Regions from separate parts of the Homo sapiens genome. Here region 2 is linked to region 1. Evidence: fine-mapped expression QTL. Tissue or cell type: blood mononuclear cells. Region 1 holds a variant in brackets; the other region holds the start of a gene. All regions are shown on one strand. Distances are between the middles of the regions.

Evidence for each region. PIP is the estimated chance that this variant, and not a neighbour inherited with it, causes the effect.
Region 2: it holds the start of CLOCK, and the variant in region 1 is fine-mapped to the expression of CLOCK in blood mononuclear cells (TOPMed, PIP above 0.99).

What each region holds. Positions count from the first base shown.
Region 1 is chr4:55,490,822-55,501,019 of GRCh38, forward strand. All of the region lies in intron 2 of CLOCK (clock circadian regulator), which reads right to left. Among named protein-coding and RNA genes, the nearest start is that of CLOCK, 51 kb to the right of the region's middle. RefSeq lists an enhancer at 8,641-8,935. The variant A/C (reference allele first, on the strand shown) is at 5,413.
Region 2 is chr4:55,541,590-55,551,787 of GRCh38, forward strand. It overlaps CLOCK (clock circadian regulator), which reads right to left and starts at 5,320. Exons shown (of 23, transcript NM_004898.4): 1 at 5,193-5,320. LOC124900704 (a long non-coding RNA gene) reads left to right here and starts at 4,276. Exons shown (of 2, transcript XR_007058122.1): 1 at 4,276-5,021; 2 at 6,027-6,300. RefSeq lists silencers at 4,316-4,945, 5,066-5,165, 5,226-5,595.

The sequences.
Region 1 (10,198 bases):
CAACTGTATAGACCAAATGGACCTAACAGACATACACAAAACATTCCACCCAACAACAGCAGAATACACATTATTCTCAAGTACACAGAGAACGTTCTCTAGGACAGATCACCTAATAGGGCACAGAACAAGTTTTAACAAATTTAAGGTTGAATTATACTAAATATCTTCTCTGATCACAGTGAAATGTCAGAAGGAAAACTAGAAAATTCATAAGCAGATGAAATTTAAACACACTGTTGAATAACCAAAGAGTCAAGGAAGACATCAAAAGAGAAATTAGAAAACATCTTGAGACAAACGAAAACACAACATACCAAAATGTATGGGATGCAGCAAAAGTGTTCTGACAGGGAATCTTATTTCAGTCAATGACTGCATTAAAAATGAAGAAAGATTCCTGCAGGTGTGCTAAAAAAAAAAAAAAAAAAAAAAAAGGAAAGATCTCAAACAATGCAACTTTATACCTCAAAGAACTAGAAAAAGAAGAACAAAGCCCATAGAGAGCAGAAGGAAGGAAATATGATTAGAGTAGAAATAAAACAGTGAATAGGAAAAAAAAAAAATCAACAAAACTAAGAGTTGTTTCTTTGAAAAGACTAACAAAATTGACAAATCTTTAGCTACACTAGGAATAAGAGAAGACTCAAAATCAGAAATAAAAGGAGAAATTACAACTGATGTCACAGAAATAAAAAAGTATTTTTTTGAGACAACTCAATAAATATACACCAACAAATTAGATAACCTAGAAAAAATGGATAAATTCCTAGAAATATGCCATCTACCACGAAGGCTGAATCATGAATAGAAAAATGTGAACAGAGTTCACAGCAGATTTATTCATAATGGTCTAAAACTATAAACAATCCAGATGTTCATTGACAGTACAATGGATAAACAAAATGTGGTATTCATATAATGGAATGCTATACAACAAAGAGAAGACTGCATGCAACAGCACAGATGACTTTACAAGAGAGTACATAGTTTTTTTAAGAATAGACAAATTAATCAGTAAGTCAGAATGATAAAATAAAAAAAGAAAATCTGAGCAGACACATATAACTTGTAATTATATTGAATCAAAAACTTCCCAATGAAGAAAAGCCAGGACCATATACATGACTTCACTGAAGAATTCTACCAAACACTGAAAGAATTAATACCAATCCCCCTCAAATGCTTCCAACAAACTGAAAAGGGAACATTTTCAAACTCTTTATGAAGCCAGCATTATGCTGATATCAAAGCCAAAGACACCATAAGAAAAAAACTATAGACCAATATTCCTTATGCATATTGATGAAAAATTCTCAACAAAATACTACCAATCCAAACGCAACAGTAAATTAAAAGGATTATACCACATGACCAGGTGGTATTTATCCCTGGGATTTGAGCAAGGTTCAACATATATTAATAAAACCAATCCATGTGCTACACCACATCAACAAAACCAAGGATAAAAATCGTATGAGGGATCTCAATTGATGCAGAAAAAGCATTTAACAAAATCCAACACCTATTCATGATAAAAAAAAAAAACGCCATTCAACAAACTAGGAATAGAAGGAATTTATAAACCAAGAAAAGGAGGAATTTCTCTTTCTTAAAAAATAAATTGGTTTGAAAATTATGCCCTTTGACTCAGTAATTTCACTTTGAGAAATAATAAAATAATCAAAGATGCATCTAAACTTTTATATTCATTGAGATATTATTAAAAATAATAAAGCTAGGCCAGTCACAGTGGCTCATGCCTGTAATCCTAGCACTTTGGGAGGCTAAGGTGGGTAGATCACTTGAGGTCATGAGTTCAAAAACAGCCTGGCTAATATGGTGAAACCCCATCTCTACTACAAATATAAAAATTAGCTGGGCATGGTGGCACACGCCTGTAATCCCAGTTACTCGGGAGGGTGAGGCAGGAGAATCGCTTGAACCCAGGAAGCGGAGGTTGCAGTGAGCCGAGATAGCGCCACTGCACTCTGACCTGGGTGACAGAGCGAGATTCTGTCTCTAAAAAAAATAAAATAAAATAAAAACAGTAAAGCTAGAACAAATTTAAATGTCTAACTGCATTAACAGTGGCATGAAAATATATCAGACATAAACCTGAATATAGCAAAAGTATCAACTGTGATTGCTCCTAGGTAGTTTATGGATGGTGTTTTTTGTTCTTTCTTTAGTACTTTCTAAAATTTCTCCCATGAACATGCATTACTTTTATAATCAGAAAGCTTAAGTGCTGCATTTTTTTTCTTTTTCTTTTAATTGTCCAATACTAGAGGCCTAGCTATACATGAGGAGGCAAATAAGATAAAACACAACCTGTTATCTATTCCAGAGAACAAAAACTTAACAGAGACTATTTTTCTAGCCATTTAAAGAAAACAAAGTTTCATCTAGTTAATAATTTTAAAATTATTAATTAAAAATGGCTAACTCAGGAATTTGAATTTTAAAAATTAAAACTACAGTTTTTCCCTAACCTAATAACCTACTGACCCACTGACCTACTTTGGAATTTAGGTTTGTTAATTCTGATACCACAGGTATTTCGGGAACTGACGGATCTATTAACATTAATTAAAAGTAGTGCTGAAATTTAATTGACCGGTATAATACAAAACCTAAGGAACAAACCTTAACTACTTTTATTACCACTTATGAAAAATTCTAACTTGCTTCTGCAGATTACTGATTTTGTATTATAACTGAAACAGTAATTATTTCTAAGAGAAAAACTATTTTAACTTGCAAAGAAAGGCCCAAATATTTAATACTTTTTAGATTCGTTGTTTAATGTACGAGGAAAAAATGAAATTAAACAGTGGTTCTCAATTTATTCAATATTGAATGTATTAGCCACCTCTACAACCGATATAAGATATTGGCAAAATAAAACACATATTTGGTTTTACAGCTATCTCTACAATCAATTTAAATTTGAAAACTGACCTGTAAGAATAAGAACCACATCCCAAACCAGTTTTATGAACCAGACCTCTTAAAACCAGAGAGGATTCTGGCTCAAGACAAACATCAACTGACACTATAACTCTAGCCTGCTGAATGTCAAGATGTAAGATATTCACTAAACCTCATTAAATAAACAAAAACTAAAAAATTAATACAGTTCTCTTAGTGGGACAATACTATTCCAACGATTCAACTAATATATATTTTTCAAGTAATGTCTGAGCTTTGTATTCATATAACAGACTGATCTTGCCCACAGAGTATAGGAGCACCTTATCCCCTTTTCAGAGATAAGACTAAGGCCTACATCTGTCCTCAGCCCCAAGTAAGCCCCACATAAAACCTGAAGGTGGAGGGAGAGCACAAGCCTCAGAATGAATTTCACATGTAATCAGGTACCATAAACCTGAAGCTATACGACTCTACACCTGGCCTTCATCCTGACACCAGCAGGAAGAAAGAGGGAGCCCTGTGGTAGGCAGAATAACAGCCTCCGAAGAATGTCCATTCCCTCTTCCCTGGACCTTATGAAGATGTTATGTCACATGGCAAAAAAGGACACTGCAGATGTGATTAAGGATAAGGATCTTGAGATGTGGAGATTATCCTGCATTATCCAAGTGGGTCCAAAATAATCACGTGAGTTCTTAAGAGGAAAGGACCTTTCCTAGCTGTGGTTTGATATATCAGAAAGAACGGTCAAAAAGATGGCAAGTTAAAGGCATAAGAATGATACAATGGACCATGGGGACTCGGGGAGAAGGGAAGGATAGGAGGGGGGATGAGGGATAAAAGACCATACATTGGGAACAGTGCTCAGGTGATGGGTGCACCAAAATCTCAGAAATCACCACTAAAGAACTTATCCATGTAACCAAACACCCCCTGTTCCCCAAAAACCTACTGAAATGATAATTCTTTTAAAAAGATGCAAAGTTGCTGGCTTTGAAAGTGAAAGAAGGTGGCCACAAGCCAAGGAATTCAGGTAGCCTCTACAAGCTGGAAAAAACAAGGAAACAGATTTTCTCCTGAAGCCTCCAGAGAGAAATGCAGCCCGCTGACACCTTGGGTTCAGGTCAGTGAGATTTGTGTTGGCCTTCTGAGCTGCAGAACTGTAAAACAATAAATTTGTATTGTCTTAAGCCATTAAGTTTGTGGTTATTTGTATGGTAGCAACAGAAAACTATACAGAATCCGGTTTCTCTCGATAAACCTGGCTCTCACCAACACTTCCCTTTCAGTATTTACAGCAACCTGCATAGGAGATCATCAAAGAGAATCCCATTATGCCCTCCATTCTTTTTACATCAGTCAACAAGAAATGCCCAAGACTCCCAAGTCATCCCCCATCCCTATATACTTTCATCCCTATATACTCTGTATGTCCCTACACTGACCCCTTTTCTCTTCCTCCCCCAATTCCCGAAATCCTTTCGCAGTGTCTTCTGGAACTCATGGTACACATCGTCGTTAAAATATCCTATTTCCTCAGTATTGTTGTTGCACACTCTTCACCTTACTTGCTCCCAGCTGTAACCTCTCTCCCCTCTGGGAGTTCTGCTCTAACTCCAGCCCTTTCAAACAATGGCTTCTCTCTCATGTGAGATAAAATATATTTACTCTCCCATATCTCAGATGACCAAGCCCTGTTGGTGGGGTGAACTTCCTTGTAACTCACTGTCATTTCTGAATTATTCTCTCCCTCCCTAAAACCTTAGCTTTGACTCTCATGCCACCAGACTACATCAGCTATTATCCCCTCCTTATTGTAGTCATTCACAAACCCCAGGATAAGCCCCTTCACTCCACGAAGGGTGTGACCCTCTCCAATACCTCTTTTGAATTTCAATGTACACAAAATGATCCCCCAAAACTGGCCAGTGAGTTCCTTGATCTCTTCTGCAACAATTTTGTGTTCCACCCCACCTCCCACTCATTCTGCTAGTGTTACCCCAGAATTCACCATTACTAATATCCAAAAGACCCTCCGTATCCTCAATTTTAAGCATCTAAGCCCTCTCTCACAAACTGGGATAGCATGTGATCCACCTGATGCAAAAAGACAAAAAACACAAACTTTTTTTAAAAAAACAAAAAAACTGCTGGGCGCAGTGGCTCACACCTGTAATCCCAGCACTTTGGGAGGTCAAGGTGGGTGGATCACCTGAGGTCAGGAGTTCAAGACCAGCCTGGCCAACATGGTGAAACCCCGTCTCTACTAAAAATACAAAAATTAGCCGGGCGTGGTGGCAGGCGCCTGTAATCCCAACTACTTGGGAGGCTAAGGCAGGAGAATCGCTTGAACCCGGGAGGTGGAGGTTGCATTGAGCCAAGATTGCTCCACAGCACTCCATCCTAGGTGACAGAGCGAGAGGTCGTCTCAAAAAAAAAAGAAACAATCAAAAAACAAAAACAAAAAAACTGACA[A/C]TATAGCTCTAACTTATTTATGTTGGGTCTTTAAAAAGAAAAAAAAAACTGTGCCAGCTCATAATCTTTGTTGGAGCCTCAGTTTCTCTTCCTAGTAAAGGCACAAGGGAGTAAAGCAAGTTTATTTGACATGGTCGGGAAGACTAAACATAGTGACAGTCAATGATTGGTTATGTTGTTAATTACCTTCTATGAGAAATGCTTCATTCTTTTTCATGTTTCTCTAAACTCTAGCCTTCCTTTTGACCACTGAGTCCTTTATACACTTATCATATTGATAAGCTATTCTGTGGCAAAATGTAATGATTGCTTACCACTTTAATATAGTTCAAGTTGTGCTGACTATAAAAACTTTTTAAAATTCCAATTTACAGTATTTACTAACACAAACACATATAATGCAAATAATGAAAAACTTGTTCAGGGCTCTAAGGCTTCTGAAGATTATTTATCACATTCCAAGACACCAATTTTCCTTTCTAGCTTTAGTCTTATTTCTCCTTCCTCATTTCCCATTCTACTTTACTGTACACAGACTCCTTATTCTCCAGCTACACTAAGGAATCACGTCACCATTCCTAGATAGTAGAAAATAAAGACCTCTACGTAAAACAAAGGTTTGTCCACCAGTACCCAATATATTATCAACATAAATATCTTAATACAATAAACTGGAATTGACCTTCACAGAAAATCATATTGTCATTCACATCAAGATTCAACTAATCATGATATAAACTTTATGTTATTAGTGAAAAACTGAAGAGGTACTATGTGCTTCCTATGGCCTCTATAAAAATTATCACAAAGTTAATGGATTAAAACAACACAAATTTACTATCTTACAGTTCTGTTGGTGAGAGCCCAATATAGGTCTCACTGGGCTAAAATCAAGGTGGGCTAAAACCGAGGTGTTGGCAGGGCTGAATTCCCTCCTGTAAGCTCTAGCAGAGAATGTTTCCTTGCCTTTTCAAGCTTTAGAGGCCACCCGTATTCTTTAGCTCATAGCTCCCTCTACTCCATCTTCAAGCCAGCAGGAGGCCAAGTCCTTCTCGGGCTGCCATTTCTTCTGCCTCTTTCTTCCCTTATTACATTAAGCCCACATAGATAATCTAAGATAACCTCCATATTTTATGGTTAACTGATTAGCAACCTTAATTATTCCTTGCCATGTACCCTAACATAGTGGCAGGTTCCAGGAATCAGGATATGAACCTCTCTGAAGGGTCAGTATTCTGCCTACCACGTACCATGGACCAAAAAGTCTCTGTTTGGCAAAGACAAAATCAAATATTTTTTGAGGGGAAAGGTGAAACATCAAAGGATAATTTGATCTATTAATAGATAAAAGACTACAGTACTATGCCAGTAGTTCTTAACTTCTGAACTATCTTAACCTTTCATATTTCTTAAAGGGAATTGGAAAATAATGTGTATGACAATTCAGGCTGCATGCGTTCAACTGTAACTAAAGTCTAACTTTATTGCTATATGGTAGCAACAGGCTCTAGGGATATTCTTCTGAACGGAAAAATCTGTCAATGTCCAAATGAATACTAGCACATATTTCCCCTTTTGGAAAACTAATTGTTACACCATAAACACATATGATGTAATTTATATGCACTAAACAGATTGTCCAAAAAAGATGAATTAAACCCCAGACTTTGTAGAAGCCTATTTTTTAAAAGGGCAAATGTATATAGATTTCTGAGATGGATCTCCAGAAAAAAAAAAAAGAGATACAGAATTTTAGCAACCTAAAAGAAGTACAGAATTTCATTAGTACTATAAATCCTCTAGGGACCTCTTAGGAAATCGGATTATTAAGTAGTACTTTGACAATGCTAGGTTTAGAGCTAATTCATGAGTTGTTTAATAACATACAACTAATATGTATAAATATAATGACAATGTTTGACATATTATGTACTACATCTATGAGGTCACCAGAGCCACTTAAAACACCACCAAAAAATGCATCAATTTTCAAGGCCACAAGTATTCCCCTTTGTGCAATAATCATTTCACTGAAAAGACAGTTGTTTTGACTTATTAAAACTCGGGTAAACTGCCAGCTGCTTTTGTGTAGCCAAGTAGGCCCGGCAAATTCAAAATCATCTGAAAAGTATTTCAAAGAAGTTTAGATGCATCCTGAACCACAGATAATTCAGAAAAAAACTACCATAAAGCATGTCTTCTTCACTAAAATAATCATTATATCTAAGTTTATATTTAGGAAAAAATGTAATCCCTTTGAACTAGAAGATTTTGCAATATATAATTTATACATATGTTACCCATTTCTGCTTTTCTGTCCCTATTTACTTTCAAAGCTTTCAAATTTAAAAAATTGATCTATCTAGTTCCTTATTATTATTATTATTATTATTTTAACCCACTGACTGTTTGATCCTTACCCTAAAATGACAAGGTGTGGAAAATGGCAGGCCAAGACCATATCTCAATCTGTGGAGTGGCAGGGGAGATGGGGCTCAAACTGCATAGGTCTTTGCATCACGTAAGTAGGAGTAAATATAGGATAAATGAGGACGTGTAGGTAGTACAAGAATCCACCAGCCAGAAGGCCTGTGACCAGGTTTCACAGAATCCAACATGGACATAACAAGTATATTATAGAACAGACATATACTCTTGATACAGAAGACACGAGATCTGATGGGATTTCTACTGATTCATCTTTAAGCTCACTGACTCTTCTGTCATCTCCATTGTTACTGAGCCCATGCAGTACATCTGTATTTCATATATTGTATTTTTCAGCTCTGAAATTTCCATTTGATTATTTCATATAGTTTTTATTTTTCAGAGAACTATTTTTACACTCCTTTCAGAAGTGTTCACTTTTACCTCATGAACATGAGTACTTTAAGGCTTTTTTCTGATAATTCCATCATCTGGATCATCTCAGAGTTGTCAACTGGCTTATGTTCTTTTTCCTTTAAAAATGGTCAGATTTTACTGTTTCTTTGTATGTCAAGTAATTTTGGATCATATCCTGGACATTCTAGATATTAAGTTATGAGATTCTAGGTTCCATTAACATCCTCTAAAGCAGCAGTCCTCAACCTTTTTGGCACCAGCGACTGGTTTCATGCAATACAATTTTTCCATGGACAGCGGGGATGGTTTCTGGACAAAACTGTTCCACTTCAGATCATCACACTTGTTAGGGATGGTTTCTGGACAAAACTGTTCCACTTCAGATCATCACACTTGTTAAGTTAGATTCTCATAAGGAGCATACAACCTAGATCCCTTGCACTCGCAGTTCACTGCAGGGTTCACGCTCCTATGAGAATCTAATGCTGCTACTGATATGACAGGAGGCGGAGCTCAGGCGCTAATGCTCACTAGCCAGTCACCTACCTCCTGCTGTGCGGCCTGGTTCCTAACAGGCCACAGTACCAATCGTTGTTTCAGTTTTCAAAGCGTTCACAATGCTGCTTAAATCTATCCTCCGCATGCATCTCTCAGGGGCAACTCTGGGATTTGAGCAGTGGTTTACACCATAGTTCAGCTCTCTAGGTCTTTGCCATGTTTCTTTCGCTCTGTTCCATGTACGTGTAGCTCATGGATGCAGTAGGTAGGACCTTTGTGTGTTCATACATGCAATTAGGGAATCTCCCCCCAAACTAGGTGTCTTCTCTTTGAGACTTCCAAAGCATGCTCCAGCTTCCAGAGTTCTCTTTCCCAATTCCTCTGGCCAGAGAGACGGCTTTCTTCTTGGGATTTTAAGTACATATACCACTATGGCAATGTAATTTTACAAATGGAGATGGTCTCAGGGCACAGCTGGGAGAGAAAAAAAGGGGGGAATTTTCTTTGTCCTATGACTAGAAATAAAGGGTTTCTCTTGGAGTTTTTGCTAACTGCTGCACTCAACATGTACTTCTACAACCCAGCCTACCATTTGGTTAAAGCTGGATAACAAAAAGAAAAAAAAAATGGTAAGCTAAGCACTACACAAGCTATTCAGGTTTTGACTTCCCTTCTCAGTTTGCCTATTACTGTTTACTTTCGAAAGTCTTCAGATAATTGTTTTTGTTTCTATCTAGAGGGTTTTTGTTGTTGTTTTTGTTTTGTTTGGGGGGAGTGGTGTGTTTTGAGATAGGGCCTCACTCTCTCACCAAGGCTGCAGTGCAGTGGTGTGAACACAGCTCACTGCAGCCTCGACCTCCTGGGCTCAAGCAATTCCCTGCCTCAGCCTCCCAATGTAGCTGGGATTACAGGTACACACCATCATGCCCTATTGATTTTTAACTTTTTAATTTTTTGCAGAGACAAGATCTCATTATGTTGCCCAGGCTGGTCTCTAACTCCTGGGCTCAAGCAATCCTCCTGCCGTGACCTCCCAAATTGCTGGGATTAAAGGCATGAGCCATAGCATCGGCCTAACCGGGGTTTTAAGTTCTAATCAGAGAGGCTTACTCCACTTTTGCCTATCCATTATGTTTTATCCATTTCCCAATTAAATTTCACCTAATGGCTTTAGTAGTCACGACTAATTGTTATCTAGAATCATTATTTCATTAGGAGTATGCACTGTGGTGAGTTTGTAAGCCGATCGTTCTCCAGTGTTTCTGTTTGTTTGTCTGTTTTTGCGCTTGTTTTTGAGACAGGGTCTTATTCTGTCACCCAGGCTGGAGTGCAGTGGCACAATCTCAGCTCACTGCAGCCTCGATCTCCTGGGTTCAAGTGATCCTCCTGCCTCAGCCTCCTCAGCAGCCGAGACTACAGGCATGCACCACCATGCCTAGGGCTA
Region 2 (10,198 bases), 51 kb after region 1:
TAATATATATGCTTCAAGATTGAGATAAGAGGAAACAATTTTCTTTTAATATTAACACTGGCTGACATATTTGATGGTAGACAACAGTTAACTGATAGGATTTAATTTCCTAATTTTTCTAGCAATCCTGAAATGATTAAAGAGGCTGTATTATAATTATCAAATAAAACATCAAATGGTTCTTTCCAGCGGGAAAGCTTAAAAAAAACTACTGAAATAGCTATCAGTCTCACAGATGCCTGCTAAAAGAACATAACAACTCCTTACGTTATCAAGAGCTAAGATCTAAGTTTCCTTTCTTAACTAATTAAAAGGTTAAGATACGTATTCTCCCTCAAAATCCCATGCCTCTCCCCCCACCAAAAAAAAAAAAAACAGCCAGAAATAGGCTCATCCTTACAAATGTTGTATGTAATTTTCTTATAAAATCTATCATTTTCCACCTTGTGTTATAATGTCTATGCTTTTCAGTTGGGCATGGTGGCTCATGCCTGTAATCCCAGCACTTTGGGAGGCCGAGGTGGGCGGATCACCTGAGGTCAGCAGTTTGAGACCAGCCCGGCCAACATGGAGAAACACCGTTGTCTACTAAAAATACAAAAATTAGCCGGGTGTGGTGGCAGATACCTGTAATCCCAGCTACTCTTGGAGGGCTAAGGCAGGAGAATCGCTTGAACCAAGGAGGCGGAGGTTGCAGTGAGCTGAGATCACGCCACTGCACTCCAGCCCGGGTGACAGAGAGAGACTCTGTCTCAAATAATAATAATAATAATAATAATAATAATAATAATATTATTATTATTATTATTATTAATGTCTATGCTGTTTTAACCATACTAGATTTCAAAACCACTGAAGGCAGGGTCAATTATACTGCATCTTTCTAGGTATCTCCCATAGTAAATAGTCTTGATCAATACTCTGAACTTTTTGCAAACTCCATCAGCTAAAAAGAATTAAGGTTTGGTAATTCTTTGTAACCTGGTTTAAAACAAACCCTCTGGAACTATTAGAGAACCAGAGGGATGGATGGAGGAGAGGGTAGTGCATATTAGTTGTTTGTTGTCAGTTAAGCAAAAGCCAAACCAAAGAGCCTCTTCTCTCCTTTTCCCTTCAAAAGCTAAATTTTATCCAAGTCAGTATCAGTGTCCCTTAGTTAAGGACAGTCTGCTTAGGTTCACTTCAGAGGAGCTCAAGAGGCTGGTGTAATCTACGAGGCTTTCGTAGGAGTCTGCAAGCAAGTACAGAAGGAAAAAAAATCAAAGTTTAACCCATACACTATCGATCAAGTCAAAAGCCAAAGAAAACCCTAAAACTTGGACTCTAAAGAGTCCTATAAAATTCATGGAATCCAAGCACCTTTTGGGTTTGTTTTGTTTAAAACAGGGTGTCACTCTGTCACCAAGGCTGAACTCCTGGGTTCAAGTGATCCCTCCACCTCAGCCTCCCAATTAGCTGAAACTACGGTGTGCACCACCCCATCTGGCTAATTTTTTTTAAAAAAATTTTGTAGCAAAGAGGTCTCACTATGTTGCCCAGGCTGGTCCTGAAATCCTGGGCTCAAGCCATTCTCCCACCTCGGCCGCTCGAAGTTTACAGTGAATTAAATCTATACCAGATAAAACTCACATCAGTATGACCTCCCTTCAAACTCTGCAAATGCCTCCATAACAATTGGCCCCTCACTAGTGAAAAGATGAGTATGACCTATGGTCTATATCAGATGTTAAGCTTTCTGACAGGCTCCAAGTCATGTCCCTGTCCTGTAGGTAATAACAGAGCCCATACTGGAGGCAAAATGGCAAAGCAGATGATCATTCAAGATGATTCCGTTTTCAAGGCTGAAAAGAACATATTTGCAAATGCACAGAAAAAGATCTACAAGATCATACAGTGGTGTTAACAGTGTTACCCTTCAGTCAAGGGTATACGAGTAGCTGTGCTCCCTAGATTCCTCTGGGGAGGAATGTGAGCTAGAAGTGGATGTAAAGGGGTTGTCACTTATTATATATACACTGTATTAACTTTTTATGAGCATCAATTTACTTCTGTAATTTTAAAAATAAGAGTCCCAGCTACTCGGGAGGCTGAGGCAGGAGAATCTCTTGAACCTGGGAGCCGGAGGTTGCAGTGAGCCAAGATCGTGCCACTGCACTCCGGCCTGGTGACAGAGCAAGACTCCGTCTCCAAAAAAAAAAAAAATTGAAATGTAATTCCATTTTTAAAAAAGATTGAACGGACCCACATGGAATTCAAATGAAAAATAAGTGACACTTTGCAGAAGTCTATTAGAAAAACCTACATATCAAACAGAAATAATATAAGTATCCTATCCTACAAAATAAAAAGGAATACTGGTAATATTACAAAAATGCCCACAGCAACTGCAATCCATTACTCACTATTCACTACTTTCATTACACAATATTAGTCACCAGGGGGAGTTTGAGGGTCCCCTCCCAAAATTATATCTCATCTAACAGCTGCCTGTGCAGTCTTAACCTCATTAAACAGGTTTTCAACAATCCAGTCCTAAAAAAATGTTCATTTTGTACACTTTCATGAGAAACAACCAGACACACACACACACACACACACACACACACACACCCCAATTTACCTTTCACTGGGGTTCATGTTTGATTTCCTCAAAAGAAAGAAAAGTTTCCCAACCTGAAAAGCAAACTAACCTAGACAATCAAGTTTACTAGCACTTTAAGGGAATGTTCACATCCTCCTCATAATTGTTTGTCATGAAACTTTGGGGTTAAGTAAAATTTTACCCATCTATGACTCCTGAAAAAAAGAGGAGGGGGAAACACAAACTACACTCTGAAAGCAGCATAATCCAGCCATAATGCCAAATGTAAACAGTCATATATTTTAGCAAGGCAAGATATAACTAAACATCTTTAAAAGATAAATGCCTGTGACCTCTGCAATCTTAAAAATTAAAGTGTAAATAGTCATAAAAGGTATCCCAAACTTCCTTTTTAGTTGATTTTCCTAAAAAATATGAAAAGCAATCATATTGAAAATGACTCAAATCACCATAAATTAGGCAACAAAAATCACACAAATTATTTGGGGGAGGAGGATTTTTGTTTAATCCAGTTTATGAGTCCATAATACACACAAAAATTTGAAAACATGAAGACATACACATAATACATCTCATTTCCCACCATTCCCTCAGACTATTTCTCCCTCTCCTCTATTGTTAGTTTTCTAAATCCTCCCATAATTTCTTTATATAAAGAGCAAACATAAACTTGTATTATTACACCTCGCCCTTAAGATGTAACACACTATTCACAAAGTACCGCTACACCTTGCTTTTTTCACTTCATAGCAAATTTTTGCAATCTTTGCATGTTAGTACGTAGAAAGCTTCCTTATTCTTTTTTCATAACTGATTACGCCTAGCTTTAGAACATTTTCAGTCTGCTTTCTTCAGGCTAACTTTTTTTTTTTTTACTTTTTTTATTATTATACTTTAAGTTCTAGGGTACATGTGCACAACGTGCAGGTTTGTCACATATGTATAAATGTGCCACGCTGGTGTGCTGCACCCATTAACTCGTCGTTTACATTAGGTATTTCTCCTAATGCTACAGGCTAACCTTTCAAGACATTCTGTTCAGCCAACCACTTATCACAGGAATTAATTTCCTTCCCCCAAGCTTTGAAAACCAATCAGATTTGAGGTGTCCCAAGGGATAAGTTTCAGAGAAAGCAATTCATTATCTAAATTACATCCTTTTAAGAATGTTTATTTTCAAACAGGTAGAGGGGAATATTGCACAATTTTCTCTAATCGCTTAAAGCTACAAATCAGAACGCAATCTTCAAAGTGAAATTACCTTTGATTTGGGGGGATCAGCGTTATAGTCAAATCAACGACTGTAAAAGTTTACTTCTTGTGCTTTTCTTCCACTGTAAAAATTTTTTTATTTTTTAAAGAAGGCTAAAAAGCCTTAAAGTCTAATAGCACGGCATTCTAATAGCAGGAAACCACAATCTGATTTGATCTTTCATCTGCCAGGTCAGAGACTAGGCTTTTATCTTGCAGAATTAGGCTCACCTACCATCAACAAGAGGACCTCTACAAAGCTACAAACACTTTCAAAGAATATAAACTCTGCGGCGCTGCGTGTAGGAAATTACACTCCAGGGGCCAGAGCGCCAGAGCCAACTCCAGAAAACCCAGCTTCACTGGCGGAAAGAAATCTACAAACGCCAGCGGCGGTGACGGGGAACGGGAAGCGCGGGTGGACGGAAGAAGAGAAACCGAGCGCCTCGCCGCCAACCCTCGAACCCGCGCGCGGTCGCTGGAGTCAGACGCTAATAGCCGCGCGCTGCCTAGGAACGGAACCCCGGAACCACCACCACTAACGGAACCAGCCCGCGGCCGGCAACGGCGGCCGTTCGGACTGCGGACTGCGGCACGCGGGCCGGGCGCCGGGAGGGCGGGGGTTCCCCGGAGGAGCTGGCCGCCCCGGCGCCCCATTGGGCGCTGCTCCAAACGTGCCCGAGTGGTGACAGGAATAAAGTGGGTCACAAGGCCTAGCGGGTCCCCAGCGAAAGCTCTCTCGGCACCCGGTCCCCGTCTTTCCCCGCCTCCCAGCTGCTGGAATCGGCCGCAGCTCCGGGCGCCCTCAAGCCGCCCGGCCCCGCCGTGCACCCCACTCCCGCCCCTGCCCCGCAGGTAACCCCAGCTGCCCCAGAGGGCCTCTCAGGCAGGGCGGGCCTCGGCCCGAAGTCCCGGGAAAAGACACACTAGAACGACACGCCAAACTTGGGCTTCAGCTCCCGCCTTCCCCACCCTTGGCCGCCGCCCCCCGGCCCCACACACGCCGCCCCCCGCTCCCTCCCCTTCCCCGCGCCCTCACCGTGTGGCTTGCGGCGGCTCCGGCTTCTTCCCTCCCCCACCCAGGTCTCCCGCTGCGGTGACTCGGAACCACTACCCCGCCTGTGTCCAGGAGGCGCCGCGGCTCCCACCTCCAGCAGCACCTGGGGCTGTGAGTGGCGCCCCCCACCCACCCCCCCAAAAATTCGCCGCTCCTGTGGCCAGCTCCTCCTCCCCCTCCCTTCCCTTCCCCTCCTCCACCAGCCCAGGAGCGCGCATGCGCCGCCAAGGAAGCCAACCGGCACTCGGCAGGCCCTGGGCCCACCGGGCGGGCGCCTCTCACCGGGAGCGCTCGCGGCGGCGGCGGCCAGATTTCCTTCGCGCTCTCGCTCTCCGGGGTTTCCTTTTTTAAACCGGCAGCCGCAAGCCGAGTCCGTGATTGCGCCCCCTCCCGGCGCATGCGTCGTCAGCGACCCCGCGGGCTCAGACGGCCGGCGGAGGCTCTGCGCTCGCCCCTCCCCTCACTCTCCCTTTCCCCAGCGCGGCTCGGTGCGCATGCGACTTGCCCCGTTAGGCAGCACGGAGCCGCGCCAGGGGATCCCGGACGCCCGAAGAGACTCCCGCGCCCCTTGGGCCGAAATCTGGCTCTGCAGGCGCACCGTTCCCTGCCCCGGCCGGGAACGGCGCCGGTTACTAGAAAGCCGGGGAGGCGGGGCCTGGTCGGGTGGAGGGCGCGGCCGGCCGGCAGAGCGCTAGCCTTAGGTCCTGGAGGCTCTTTGGCTTTCCCCCCGTATGCCGGGGGCTAGGAGGAGGAAGAAGAGCTTCCTGCCGGATGAGGGATCCAGAGGCCAGAAAAGGAACCCGCTCTCCCTTCCAAAGCAAAACACTGCCGACGCCAGCTTAGATTTTTCGGGTGTTGGCAGGAGACTTTTTCCCCCAGTGGCATCATTCGTGTTTCCTCTCCTGGTGCTGGGAGAGAAGAGTTGCAAAGGCGCCTGGACCGCCAGTAACATCTTCTCCCATCTCCTGAGGGAGCGCGGCTTGGGTTGCTTCTTCTTGGTGGGTGGGCCTGGGGAGACAGGGCATGCGCCCTCGGCCAGAGGAGGGAAGCGAAAGGAGGTCGGGATTTATTTGCTCATTTGGAGATTTTTCCCTTGCCCTTTTATTAAAAATCAAGTGACAGTGTAATGGAAGATGGAGAATGAAGCATCAGAAATAAACCAGGACCCTAATTTGCATGGATTTCCTCGTTGGAACAACGTGTGACTACTACTTATCTTCGGGAAATTACTTATCTTGATGCGTTAAGGCACATTTGGTCCACATGAGAAAGCACATTTCAGTGCTTCTACTGGAAAAGAGATCTTTACAGTCTTAATTCCTAGTAATTCCTATGTTTTAATGAATATCTTTTGGATTTGAAATAAAAGCCATCTTTTTCTTTCAAAAAATGCACTTTTCTGGCCGTAAAATCCTCCCTTTAAAGTAACAGTCACCTCAGTAAACATTTTCAATTCTTGCTGTATGCTCTGGGCAAAAGAACATCAAACTGAAGCACTTATTCAGATCCTTGATCCTGCACCTAAGGATTTTTCTTTCAGGAGTGGGAAAACATGATTTGTTAATTTACCCCATCATATAGCAGAAGATATTTTGGTCGACATTTTTGCCTGTTCAGCATTCATTCCCTATTCTGATAATTTCTTTTGAAGAACTATCATTTATCCACTCTCAGTCCATATGGTCTGAGCAGGACACAAGGGGAAGGCATATTTGAGTTTAATCCTCGGTTGCAAACTACGGTTCCTAAGAAGGGTGTTACGTCTTTACCAATGGGTTTAAATCTGGGAGAATGGAGACCTGGAGCCATCTTTCCACACGTGAATTCTGAGAAAGAAGGCAACACGGAAAAAAAGCAGATTTGAAGACAGGTTTGGCCTAAAGACATGTTTGAGGCCTGGAAACAAATGTAGATTAGATTCCTCTGGAAATTTCGTTAAACCAGTCAGTAAATTCTTGCATCTGTTTTATTGCTTAAACCAGTGAGAGGTTTTCTTTCACATGTAATCAAGAGTCCCGACTGACAAGAGGTAGGTAGCAAGACGGAGGCAAAGTTATTAATACTGATAAGGTAGGTTGCAGCCAGACAAGAGAGGGCTTGAATGCTTTCCCTAGGATGGATTTTTGAATTTTATTCTAGAGACACTGATCCCTCCTTATATTCCCCATCATCTAGAACATATTATCTTCAAAATACCTTTGCCCTTTTTAATGATTTCATTGTCCTCTCAGTCACCAAGATCAAACCATGTCCATCTTTGACTCCTCCCTCTTTCACTGTATTTAATTATTTACCAAGACCTGTTGATAATCCCCCGTTTTTCTGCTCAGTCCTCTCTCACTGCTTGAACATTTCCCATGGTTCAGTTCACAGCTTCTCCTTTCTCCCACATTCTCTCCAAGAAAAGAAAAAATGTACTGGATATGTCTTTTTTTTGAGACAGATTTTTTGAGACAGAGTCTTGCTCTGTTGCCCAGCTGGAGTACAGTGGCATGATCTCAGCTCACTGAAACCTCTGCCTCCCGGGTTCAAGCAATTCTTGTGCCTCAGCCTTCCAAGTAGCTGTGATTACAGACTCCCACCACCACACCAGCTAATTTTTGTATTTTTAGTAGAGATGGGGTTCCACCATGTTGGCCAGGCTGGTCTTGAACTCCTGGCCTCAAGTGATCCACCCACCTCAGCCACCCAAAGTGCTGGGATTAACAGGCGCGAGCCACTGTACCCAGCCTGTATTGGATATTTCCAATAGCTTTTCCAACTTCCAGATCCCACATTTCCATAAAACAAAAATCCTGCCTCATAATTTCATAGCTCCTAAATTTATATTCCATAGCCTTAAACATAATTTCAGATATTCTGTTCACCCTTTCTTGTGAACCTTGCTATCATTTAAACTGAGTATTTCCAACTCCTCTGTCAACTGATTTCCCCCAGTTGGTAGGCAACGTATCATAGTGGTTAAGAGTACAAAATTAGGATCTTAACTGCCTGGATTTAAATCATAGCTTCACCACTAATATTCTGCATGACTTTAAGCAAGTTATTTCTCTGTTCTTTAATTTCGTCATCTTTAAAATGGGATAATTACAATCCTATCTCATAGCTTAACCGAGACAGTGTGTGTGTCTGTGTGTGTGTAATTTTATCTGGTACATAAGAAATCCCATAGAAATGTTGGCTATTCTTGTCAATGATGTTCCTTTTTGGGTAATTTTCATGTCTCTTTTGCTCTAATTCTTGCCCTAACTCCTATGTCCCATCAGTCACAAAGTCATATCTGTTCTTTCATAGTAACTCATCCATTCATTGACATTCCTAGTTTTACTACCATACTTTAAGGTGAATTGGAGAACAGGAAGCTTTAAGATATGCTTAATAGAGAATATAAGGTTAAGTATTTTTTTAAAGCTTGCATAGTTTATTCAGTTACTCATATTCTTTCTAATCCCTTTAAAATGGAACTACAAAACCCTGCCTCATAGTTGAGGTAGTATTATAGACTTTGTGGTCAAAACTCTTGGCTTAAATTCTGACTCATGCTGAGAGATAGTGAGCAAATCAAGTAATTCCTCTGAGCTTCAGGTACTTATCTGTAAAGTTACAAGACTAGGCATTTCAGAGAACTGTGATGATCAAAGGTAAATTAAACTGCTACATAAAGGCTAGGTGGTGACGATGGTGGTTGTAAATCTTTACAATTTCTTGTTGGAACCCTAAGAATAGTTGAAATGACTCACAGATTTTTAACTCCAGCCTTCACTTCTCCCTTGGGCTCTATACACACGTCTGTTTATCTACCTGATGTCTCTTCTTCTGTATCACAAATATCTTGGATGCTTCTTTCAATCTATTCTCCACAGAGCAGTCAAATTATTTTGAAAATATAAGTGAAGTCACATTATTTTCTTCTAAAACCCCTTTTGTCATTTCCCATTACATACAAATTCCTAATTATGGTCACAATAACCTGTTTGATCTGGCCCCTCCCTACCTCTCCAACCTCATGTCTTACCATTTTTTTCCTTTTCCTGTGACACTCCAACCCAGAAACTGCCTTTCATTTCTTTGCTAATTTATCTCTGCTCTCAGGCTTTCATGCATGCTGTGCCCTTGCCTGGACCCCTCCTACCTTTTCTCATGGCTGGCTCCTTCTCAACCATCACATCTCAAAGATCTAACTACCCTATTTAAGTAGGTCTCCCTCCAACACCCCACCTGCCCCCCCACCACCAATAATATCCAAAGTTATTCTCTTCTGTTGTGTCCAGTTTCCCCCATAATACTTAAGTTTAAATTATGTATATATTAGTTATATGTATATATGATATTTGTTTTCTTATTAACTATTTTCCCTACCACCACAAGATAAACTCCAGAAGGGCGAGAACCATGTGTTTTCTTTGCCACTATACGTGTAGCATCCATTTCAATACCTCAGGTGAGCTGGGTAGAGTGACACGTACATGTAGTTCCAGCTGAGCCGGGAGGATTGCTTGAGCCCAGGAGTTAAGGAACAGCCTGGGCAATGTAGCAAGACCCCATCACTAAAATAAATTAATTAAAATTTAAAAATAAAAACCAGGTTGGGTGTGGTACCTCAAGTCTGTAATCCCAGCACTTTGGGAGGCCAAGGCAGGCAGATCACTTGAGGTCAGGAGTTTGAGACCAGCCTGGCCAACATGGTGAAACCCTGTCTCTACTAAAAAATACAAAAAAATTCGCCAGGTGTGGTGGTGCATGTCTATAGTCTGAGGCTTAGGCAGGAAAATCACTTGAACCTGGGAGGCAGTATCTGCAGTGAGCCCAGTTCGTGCTGCTGCACTCCAGCCTGGGTGACAGAGCAAGAGTCAGTCGAGGCAGGATAATCACTTGAACCTGGGAGGCAGAGGCTGCAGTAAGCCCAGATCGTGCTGCTGCACTCCACCCTGGGTGACAGAGCAAGTCTGTCTCAAACAAACAAAACCACCAATGCCTGAGGTGAATGAATGATTTAATGAGTGAATGAAATGCCAGAAAGATGATTTTTAGAATCATCTTTGTCCCAAATTATGACTGTAGGCAGATTATTGTCAAGGGGTAGCCTTAGTAATGTGCATGAAAGTGTGTCCGGAATTTATTCCTTCCGGTGGGTTCCTGGTCTCACTGACTTCAAGAATGAAACCATGGACCCTTGCAGTGAGTGTTACAGCTCTTAAAGATGGTGTGTCTGGAGTTTGTTCCTTCAGATGTTCAGATGTGTCCAGAATTTCTTCCTTCCAGTGGGTTTGTGGTCTTGCTGACTTCAG